Linked DNA regions of Homo sapiens: region 1 is linked to region 2. Evidence: fine-mapped expression QTL. Tissue or cell type: visceral fat. Region 2 holds a variant in brackets; the other region holds the start of a gene. All regions are shown on one strand. Distances are from middle to middle.

Evidence for each region. PIP is the estimated chance that this variant, and not a neighbour inherited with it, causes the effect. A credible set is the group of variants that fine-mapping cannot tell apart.
Region 1: it holds the start of SLC13A5, and the variant in region 2 is the best candidate, but not a certain one, in a credible set for the expression of SLC13A5 in visceral fat (GTEx, PIP 0.85).

What each region holds. Positions count from the first base shown.
Region 1 is chr17:6,711,029-6,715,417 of GRCh38, forward strand. It overlaps SLC13A5 (solute carrier family 13 member 5), which reads right to left and starts at 2,341. Exons shown (of 12, transcript NM_177550.5): 1 at 2,204-2,341. The coding sequence starts at 2,305.
Region 2 is chr17:6,748,779-6,753,167 of GRCh38, forward strand. It overlaps the pseudogene RPL23AP73. Among named protein-coding and RNA genes, the nearest start is that of XAF1, 5.1 kb to the right of the region's middle. RefSeq lists enhancers at 3,332-3,626, 3,652-3,946. The variant G/GA (reference allele first, on the strand shown) is at 1,980.

The sequences.
Region 1 (4,389 bases), 38 kb before region 2:
GAATCCAGGTGGAGACAGGAAAACTGGAGACAGTCGGTGAGGAGAGAGGCCTGGGTGTTGGCAGAGGGTGGCGTGCCCTGGGAGTCACCTCCTGGCAAGGACTGTGTTGCTCAGGCTGCCAAGGTCCTCCCAGCTTCTCACCAGCTTCCCAGCTGCCCTGCCCGTGCTGTGTACCCTCTGGGTTTCCTTGCACAATGGGGCGGCCATGGAGGGTGGGGGCAGGGTGACCAAAACAGGCAGAAAGGGAAAAAACAAGAAGACAAGGTCCAGGGTCCTCACCCAACCCCGCCAGAAGGAAAGCTCGTGAAGGCAGCCTTTGGAAGGACTCTCCCTGGGTTCTCTTCTTCCCCTCCCTGGTCCTCACTCAAAGGACAGCTTAATCTCTCTCTCTCTCTCTCTTACACACACACACATACACACACATACACACACACTGAGTTAGGGTTTCCAGTTCAGGGTGTGTGTGTGTGTGTGTGTGTATGTGTATGTGTGTGTTTGTGTTTTTTGTGTGTTTTGTGTGTGTGTTTGTGTGTGTGTTTGTGTGTCTGTGTTTGTGTGTTTGGGTGTGTGTTTGTGCGTGTGTTTTTGTGTGTGTTTGTGTTTGTGCGTGTGTTTTGTGTGTGTCTGTGTGTTTGTGTGTGTGTCTGTGTGTGTTTGTGAGTGTGTGTGTGTGAGAGAGAGAGTGTGTATGTGTGTGTGTGTGAGTGGGGTCTCCTGTGGCAGGAAGGTCAGCCAAGCTACTATAATCATTCCAGGGAACATCACTCCCTACCAGCAGAGCTGAAATCGCAGCTCTCCTGCCTGGCTACTTCCCCTGGACAATAACAACCCCAGACTTCTTGCTACAGAGGAAGTGTGGCTGCCCACAGTTGGTGTGGCAACTGCACAGCCTCCACAGTTGGATCTGCTGTCCTTGACCCATCCAGGGCCTGTGCTAGGCCCACCCAAGGGCTCCTCCCAGTCTCCCCCTCCCCCATCCTAGGAACTAACGTTAATCCCTTTTGATTCCCAAAGCCTTAAAGTGTCAGAACCAAACCACCTAGCCCCATTGTACAGATGAGAACACCAAGGCCCAGAGAGCACAGGCACTTGGCTAAAGTCACACAGATGACAGAATGGTGGAAGTCCAGTTCTCTTGCAGGTTGGCTTCCTGACACCCCAGTGCACTCCCTTCCTCTAGAGCTCCCCCCCAGAGCATCCCCTGAAGAGCTCCTCTGTTTCCCAAACCTGCCTGGGGAGGGGAGGTGGGGAGCTGGAGGTTTCCTGTCTGGGCTGAGAGTGAAAGGGCTGAAAGAAGGAACGAGGAAGGAGCAGCCAGCAGCCACAAAAGGCTTCAAAGGGCTTGGGCCTCCGCCAAACTGGCTGTGCACAGCCCAGTGGAGCCTGCGCCCACCCTGCGGCCAAGGCCATTCATTCTCTCTCTCCCTCACAGAAGCATTAGGAGACTAGGGCCTGGGAGGAAGCTTCCCTGCAACTCCAGGTCCTGCCACCCAAGGCGCGAGCTCTGGGAATGTGTCCCGCCTCCTGCTACAGCCCCAGCAGGCAGGAGGCAAAGCAGGCCAACCCCAACCTGCCTGCAGCCTGGAGCAGGATTATGAATCAGATGTGGCTCTCCAGGTTGGAAGGAATGTGGATCATAGATAGAGACACTAAGGCCCAAGGAAGGGCCAGAGAGTGGCAAAGACAGCGCAGGATCCACGTGGGTGATGATTTTTTTCCTGTAGGTCCCTCCTGACGGCAGAAGCCACCTACAGCTTGAAGTCTTCTTTGGCGAAGGGAAAAGACAGGAGAGAGAGAGGGAAAGGCAAGCTCCCAGGTTCCCTGTTGGCGCAGGTGGCATTTTGGGGGGAAACAGGGTTATGCACTGTGGGAGATTCGATTCGGAGCCAGGGGCTGAGCCTAAGGCTGGGATCTGTGTGGCTGAGATCTGTGCTCACTTCGAGGTTTCCGTGCTTGCCTGGACGGCTCTTGCGCCCTGGGATCTGTAAACCCCAAGGGTGGTGCGCCCTGGGGTCGCCATGCCCCTCAGATTCTTTACAGGGCACCTCCCATCCGGCACCTGGAGCTCCTGAGTGCGCGCGCCCCGGGAGAGCTGTGCTCCCCGCGAAATCCGTGCGCTCCAGCTCAGGGCTCCCGGGATCGGTGCCCGTTAGTGGGCACAGGACGCCGGGTGTCCGAAGGGCTGCCTGGAGATGCAACTGACCTTGGCGGGCATCAGAATGACGAGTGGCAGCAGCAGGAGCGGGGTGACGAACAAGATCACGAAGGACTTGAACTTGGAGACATAGCTCAGCGCCGAGGCCATCGCGCGGGAGGGAGACTGGCGGGCGAGACGAGTGAGGGGCAGCTAGAGGCGCCGCGGGCTTAAGAAGGGGCCACAGTCCCCGGGGATTGGGGAGGGGGCGGTGACAACTCCGCCCCGCACGGGGGCGCCTCCCCGCGGCCCTGGGGCGGGGCCACCCCTCGGGGTCTGTGGGACGCGCCTGCCCCCAATTCTGCCACCCGGCGGCGGTGGGAGGCGTCTTTGGACTCCAACGCTTCGGGCCAGCCCTCTAGGGGCAGCCTGGGCCCTAGCATCTCGCGCTGTCCAAGCCTCTCCTGCGCTGCCGAGGCAGAGGTGCGTCCCGGGGCTGCCAAGCGGGGCGTGTTTTGGTCACTGGTGCTGCCCGCTTTGGCGTAAGGCGCCCTCCCGCGTCCGCATCTGCTCTTTCCTGGGCTCTGAAGGGTCCCGGATGAAACTCTCTGCAGGCCTCTGGGTCTCTCAGGTCTATCTCCCCGATCTCCCTCTCCTTTCCATCTCCTTACTTCCGCCCCTCCGGTGTCTCTCCGAGAGGTGTCCCCCCACGCCCCGCGCCCTCCGCACCGCGGGCCTCGCTTCCCGGTCCCCCCTGGCTTCCTCGCCACGTCCGCCCCACTCTAGGTGCAGGACCCCTTTTCCCCGCTCGCACTCTCCGGCCCGGAGCTCCTGGGCGATCGCACAGGGAAGCGAGGCCACTGTCCTCCTCTGTCCCAGGGGCTGTCGCGCTCCAGTGGACGCTGCACCCCGCAGACGCCCGGCGGGCAGATGCGGACACGCGTCTTGGAGGGGCCCCACCGAGCCTCAGCAGCCGCAGCTGCCCGCCCGACCCAGGTCAGAGGGAAACGGAGCTCTAGAGAGGAAGGGACACAACTAAGGCGACACTGAGACAGTCGCCCATGTATTCATTCAGCCCGCCAGGCAACAGACAGGTGCCGAGCACCTCTTCTCCGCGAGGCCCTGTTTTGGGCACTGGAGACACACGGATGCAAAGACATCCCCACCTCTGTGATTTTCTTCTTTCCTCTCCTCTGCCTGCCTCTCATTCTGCAGCTTCCTTTTGGGGAGTCTCATCCATGCTGGTGGCCTAACCACAGCCGGCTCCTTAGTGATTACCATCCTCTGCCTTCAACCCAGCCATGATGCCAGAGTCCCAGATGTCCAGCCTTCCGCAGACTGGACGTGTCTCGGCCCGAAAATTCAACACATCCTGAATCAAGCTCATGAGTTCCTTCCTGTGACCTGCACCCAAGGACATGCATTCTCCCAAGCCCCTCCTGCAATTGCCTCCCTCCTGTCCTTTTCCCTTTGTAACTCTCATGCATATAGCCCTGGGTTTTCCCGCCTTTCCTGTGTCCCCAGGGCACTTAGCACAATTTGTACCTCTTATATTTATTGGTGTAATTTTTACTTTTTACTTTTTTATTTTTTAAGTGTTATTTCATTTTTAATTGACAAATCATTGTCTATATTTACGGGGTACCATGTGATTTTTCAATGTGTGTATAATTGTGGTGTGTTCAAATCAGGCTAATGAGCATATTTATCACTCGAATATTTATCATTTCTCTTGTTTTTGTTTTTTGTTTGTTTGTTTGAGACAGAGTTGTGCTCCTGTCACCCAGGCTGGAGTGCAGTGGCACGATCTCGGCTCACTGCAACCTCTGCCACCTAGGTTCAAGCAAATCTCCTGCTTCAGCCTCCCAAGTAGCTGGGATTACAGGTGTGCACCACCACGCCCGGCTAATTTTTTGCATTTTTAGTAGAAATGGGGTTTCACCATGTTAGCCAGGCTGGTCTCGAACTCCTGACCTCAGGTGATCCGCCCACCTCGGTCTCCCAAAGTGCTGGGATTACAGGCGTGAGCCACCGCGTCTGGCCCAAATATTTGTCATTTCTTTGTGGTGAGAACATTTAAAATATCTTGTAGCTATTTTAAAATATATGACACATTATTATGATGTAATTTCTATTTACTGTCTGTTTTATTCATCACCACCTGTCCAGCTAGTGCCTTTCTCAGTGCCTAATCCAGGATGTGCACTCAAACCTTTTTCTCCGGGATGCATGAATGAGAGCAAGTAAACAACTTC
Region 2 (4,389 bases):
AACCTGATGCCTGTCAGAGAAAAATGACAGATTACATACAGGGGAATGACAACTCAAATGACCATGTACTTCTCACCAGATACTATGGAGGCCAAATAACATTTGTAATGTACTGAAAGAAAAAATAAACTGTCAACCCAGAATTCTACTTCCAATGAAAATAGCCTTCAAGAATTGGGGCAAAATAAAGGAATTTTCAGATAAAAGAAATCTAAAAGAATTCATTGCCAGCTGGGTGCAGTGGCTCACTCCTGTAATCCCAGCACTTTGGGAGGCTGAGATGGGCAGATCACCTGAGATCAGGAGTTTGAGACCAGCCTGGTCAACCTGGTGAAACCCTGTCTCTACTAAAAATACAAATATTAGCCAGGCCCGGTGGTGGATGCCTGTAATCTCAGCTACTCAGGAGGCGAGGCAGGAGAATCACTTGAACCCAGGAGGTGCCGGTTGTAGTGATCCAAGATCATGCCATTGTACTCCAGCCTCTGTGGCAGAGTAAGACTCCATCTCAAAAACAAACAAACAAATAAACAAAACAAAACAAAAAACACCACCACCAACAAAAAGAATTCATTGCCAAAAGACCTACACTACAAAATAAAAAGTGCTTTAGGCTGAAGGGAAATTAAAATGTATGGAAAGACCTTCAGTAAAAACTCTGGACACTAAAGCTCAGGTGAGCTACCTGGCAGGTGATCATACATCAATGTGCTAGGAAGGTGATGCATCCCCAAGCATAAATTAAAATGGAATTCAAAAAAATATTCAAAGAATCCAAAAGAAGGCAAGAAAAGAGGAACACGGGAACAAAACACAAGAGGCATACAGGAAAAATGACAATAATGTTGCAGACCTAAATTCAACCATATCGACAATTATATTAAATGTTAATATACTAAGCACTCCAATTAAAATACAGAATTGGACCCTGTTCACAAGATGGCGCCAAAAGCGAAGAAGGAAGCTCCTGCCCCTCCTAAAGCAGAAGCCAAAGCAAAGGCTTTAAAGGCAGTGTTGAAAGGTGTCCACAGCCACATAAAAAAGAAGATCCACAAGAAAAGAAGATCCACCCACCTTCTGGCCGCCCAAGACACTGTGACTCCTGAGGCAGCCCAGATATCTTCAGAAGAGCGCCCCTGGGAGAAACAAGCTTGATCACTATGCTATCATCAAGTTTCTGCTGACCCCTGAGTCTGCCATGAAGAAGACAGAAGGCAGCAACACACTCATGTTCATTGTGGATGTTAAAGCCAAAAAGCACCAGATCAAATAGGCCGTGAAGAAGCTCTGTGACATTGATGTGGCCGCAGTCAACACCCTGATCAGCCTGATGGAGAGAAGAAGGCATATGTTCAACTGGCTCCTGATTACGATGCTTTGGACGTTACCAACGAAATTGGGATCATCTAAACTGAGTCCAGCTGGCTAATTCTAAATATATGTATATCTTTTCACCATAAAAAAAATATGGAATTGGAAGTAGCTCCCCAACTTACTGCTTGCTGAAGAAAAGGCATAGATCATCCATTCCCATTGCTTCCATACTCATATGAAATATTTGGTATATATCTACCCAAAAGTAATATGCTGTTCCACTCCCCTGTACTCTGCCTTCTGCCTCAAATGTCCTTCCTATCTCATACCACCCTCACCTCCAGCATTCAACACACACACACACACACACACACACACACACATTTAGACTCCCTCATGTCTTACCTTTCCATGAAGGTGATATGATCTGACCACTCCACTTACTCCAATTAAAATAGATCATATCTATGCATGGGTGAGATTATATCTTGCTATTCAAGCTCACTAGGAGCTGAGACTTCATTTTGTTTGTTATTGTAGCCCCTGGGCCAGGTGTATATAGGCTATTTAGCTATCAAAAACATTAATCAGCAATCAAAATTAAGTAGTGAATATAGTAGGCTGTTCTCCACGAATACAATTTGTAATAACAAACTTGAATAGGG[G/GA]AGTAATTCAACCCAGACTATGCCCTCTGCTTTATAAAATAATATCCTGCCAACTTGGCGTGACATTGAATTTTTTTTTCCTGACAAATACTGACATATTTGCTCAAACAAATTAATATCCTTCCTTTGATTCGTTTTGTTTTGGAGGAAATAAGTTCACATGTCAATGTAAAAGCTGATCCTTACAACCTCTCTTCCAAATGAATTTTTGTATCTTCATGATAACAAGATAATTAAGGAACAGTAAACTTTTCTTTAACTTTGTCTTTTTCTTTTTAGACATAACCCTGGCCTTCTGCATGGAGCCGTCGCTACTGAGATAGAAAAACAATGATGAGCTGCTAAGTATTTAACAGCCAGATCTTGGGGATGGGGAGATACTCGATTTGTAGCATTTGCCCATTTCCACGGTTTAAATACTCTCACTATGGCCAATTTTAAGGTATCAGCATGACCTTATAAATGGAACATTAAGAAGAGATGGACAGGTCGGGCCCAGTGGCTCATGCCTGTAATCCTAGCACTTTGGGGGGCTGAGGCAGAAGGATCACGAGGTCAGGAGTTCAAGACCAGCCTGGCCAAGATGGTGAAACCCCATTTCTACTAAAAATACAAAAATTAGCCTGATGTGGTGGTGGACGCCTGTAATCCTAGCTACTCAAGAGGCTGAGGCAGAGAATTGCTTGAACCCGGGAGGTGGAGGTTGCAGTGAGCCGAAATGGCACCATTGCACTCCAGCCCGGGCGACAGAGCGAGACTCCTTCTCAAAAAAAAAAAAAAAAAAAAAAAAAAAAAAAGAAGAAGAAGAAGAAGAAGAAGAAGAAGAGATGGACACAATATCTTGGAGCCAGTGTGAATCATTGTAAGAAAGACCACGTGATGTCAAGGACAGGGTAGGAAGAAACATAAGTTTCCATTTTTAAAAATTAAAACACTAGTTATTCCCTAAAATGAGAGTCTGAGTGGCTGTTCATTACCACAACTTAACCATATGAGTATGTTCACCCCAAATTCTGAGTGAAAAGACCCTGAAGCTCTAAACTTTTTCTCTTTCACCTCCCCCGCTCCACCATAAAAAGAAACAACAAAAAAATTGACATATATGGTCATTTGTCCTGAGTTCCATGAGATTTGCAGCAACCAAGGGGACCATACCATGATCAAGCTATTAAAAAATTGGTTGGATGCAGCGGCACATTTCTGTAATCTCAGCACCTTGGAAGACCGAGGTTGGAGGACCACTTGAGGCCAGTTCAAGACCAGCCTGGGTAACATAGTGGGACCCCATTTCTACAATTTTTTTTAAAGTTAGCTAGGTATGGTAGTGTGTGCCTGTAGTCTGTGTGAAGGCAGGAGGATTGCTTGAACCTGGGAGTTCGAGGCTGCAGTGAGCTATGATCACCACTGCACTCCAGCCTGAGTGACAGAGACAGACTTCATCTCTTTACCCAATATGTGTAATCTGGGAAGAGGAGAAGGCTCATAACACTCACCCTTGTAAACATCAGGGAAGAGACCTTGACATTTGGACTGTGATTGCTGATTGGACGGGAATGGGTTGGCAGGGGAAGTGGGTGAGATGTTTTAACCAGGAAAAAGAAAAAAACAAAAACAAAACTATGAATGTGTGAAAAGAGACTTCTCAAAGAAAGAAAGGAAGAGAAAAGTACTGGTCACTCCCCACACAGACAGAATGCCATGGAGTTGCTCTTTCTTGCCATGAGTTTAATGACAAGCTTCCTTCCCCTTCATATGCCAACTAAGCAGCAGCCAGCAGGTCATTCCCCGTCTTTGCTGCCCAGCCAGGCCTAGAGTCTTCCCCAAACACAGTCACAGATATTCCCAGGCTTGAATGCCATCCAGAGACTAGTCATCTGATGCAATTTCCTGTGGTCTGACAAACGAACTCCCATCCAAACACGTTGTGCTTGGGGAGTCTGACTATATGATCACATCTCCCAGGACTCAGGCCCACTCTGACCACAGGATTCTTCTAAAGACACCACCGACAGAAGTGTGTGCAATTGCACCATATAATTTTTGTCTGGGAAGTGAAATATCTCTGTCGTTACATCATCTTCCTTAGCATAGTGATCCCTTAAAAGAAGAAAGCCTAAATAAGATCCCTTCTCAAAGCCAAACTATTAAAACAATCCTTTTTAAATATTCTTTCCTGTCTTCCATGCTGTACAAGTACAGCTTTCACACAATTTCTCTTCTGATCTTCAAAACAATGCACGGAGGGGTGTATTATTCCTGTGTCCTAGTCCAGCCAGGACTTCCTGCTCCCCTTTCCCCCCGATTCCTGCAAAGGTGACATGGCCAGCCCGGCCAATTCACGTCTGAGAGACTGGCTTCCTGTGACAACCTTCACCCCCCTCCCCTGACCCACAGGCCTGACACAAAGAGA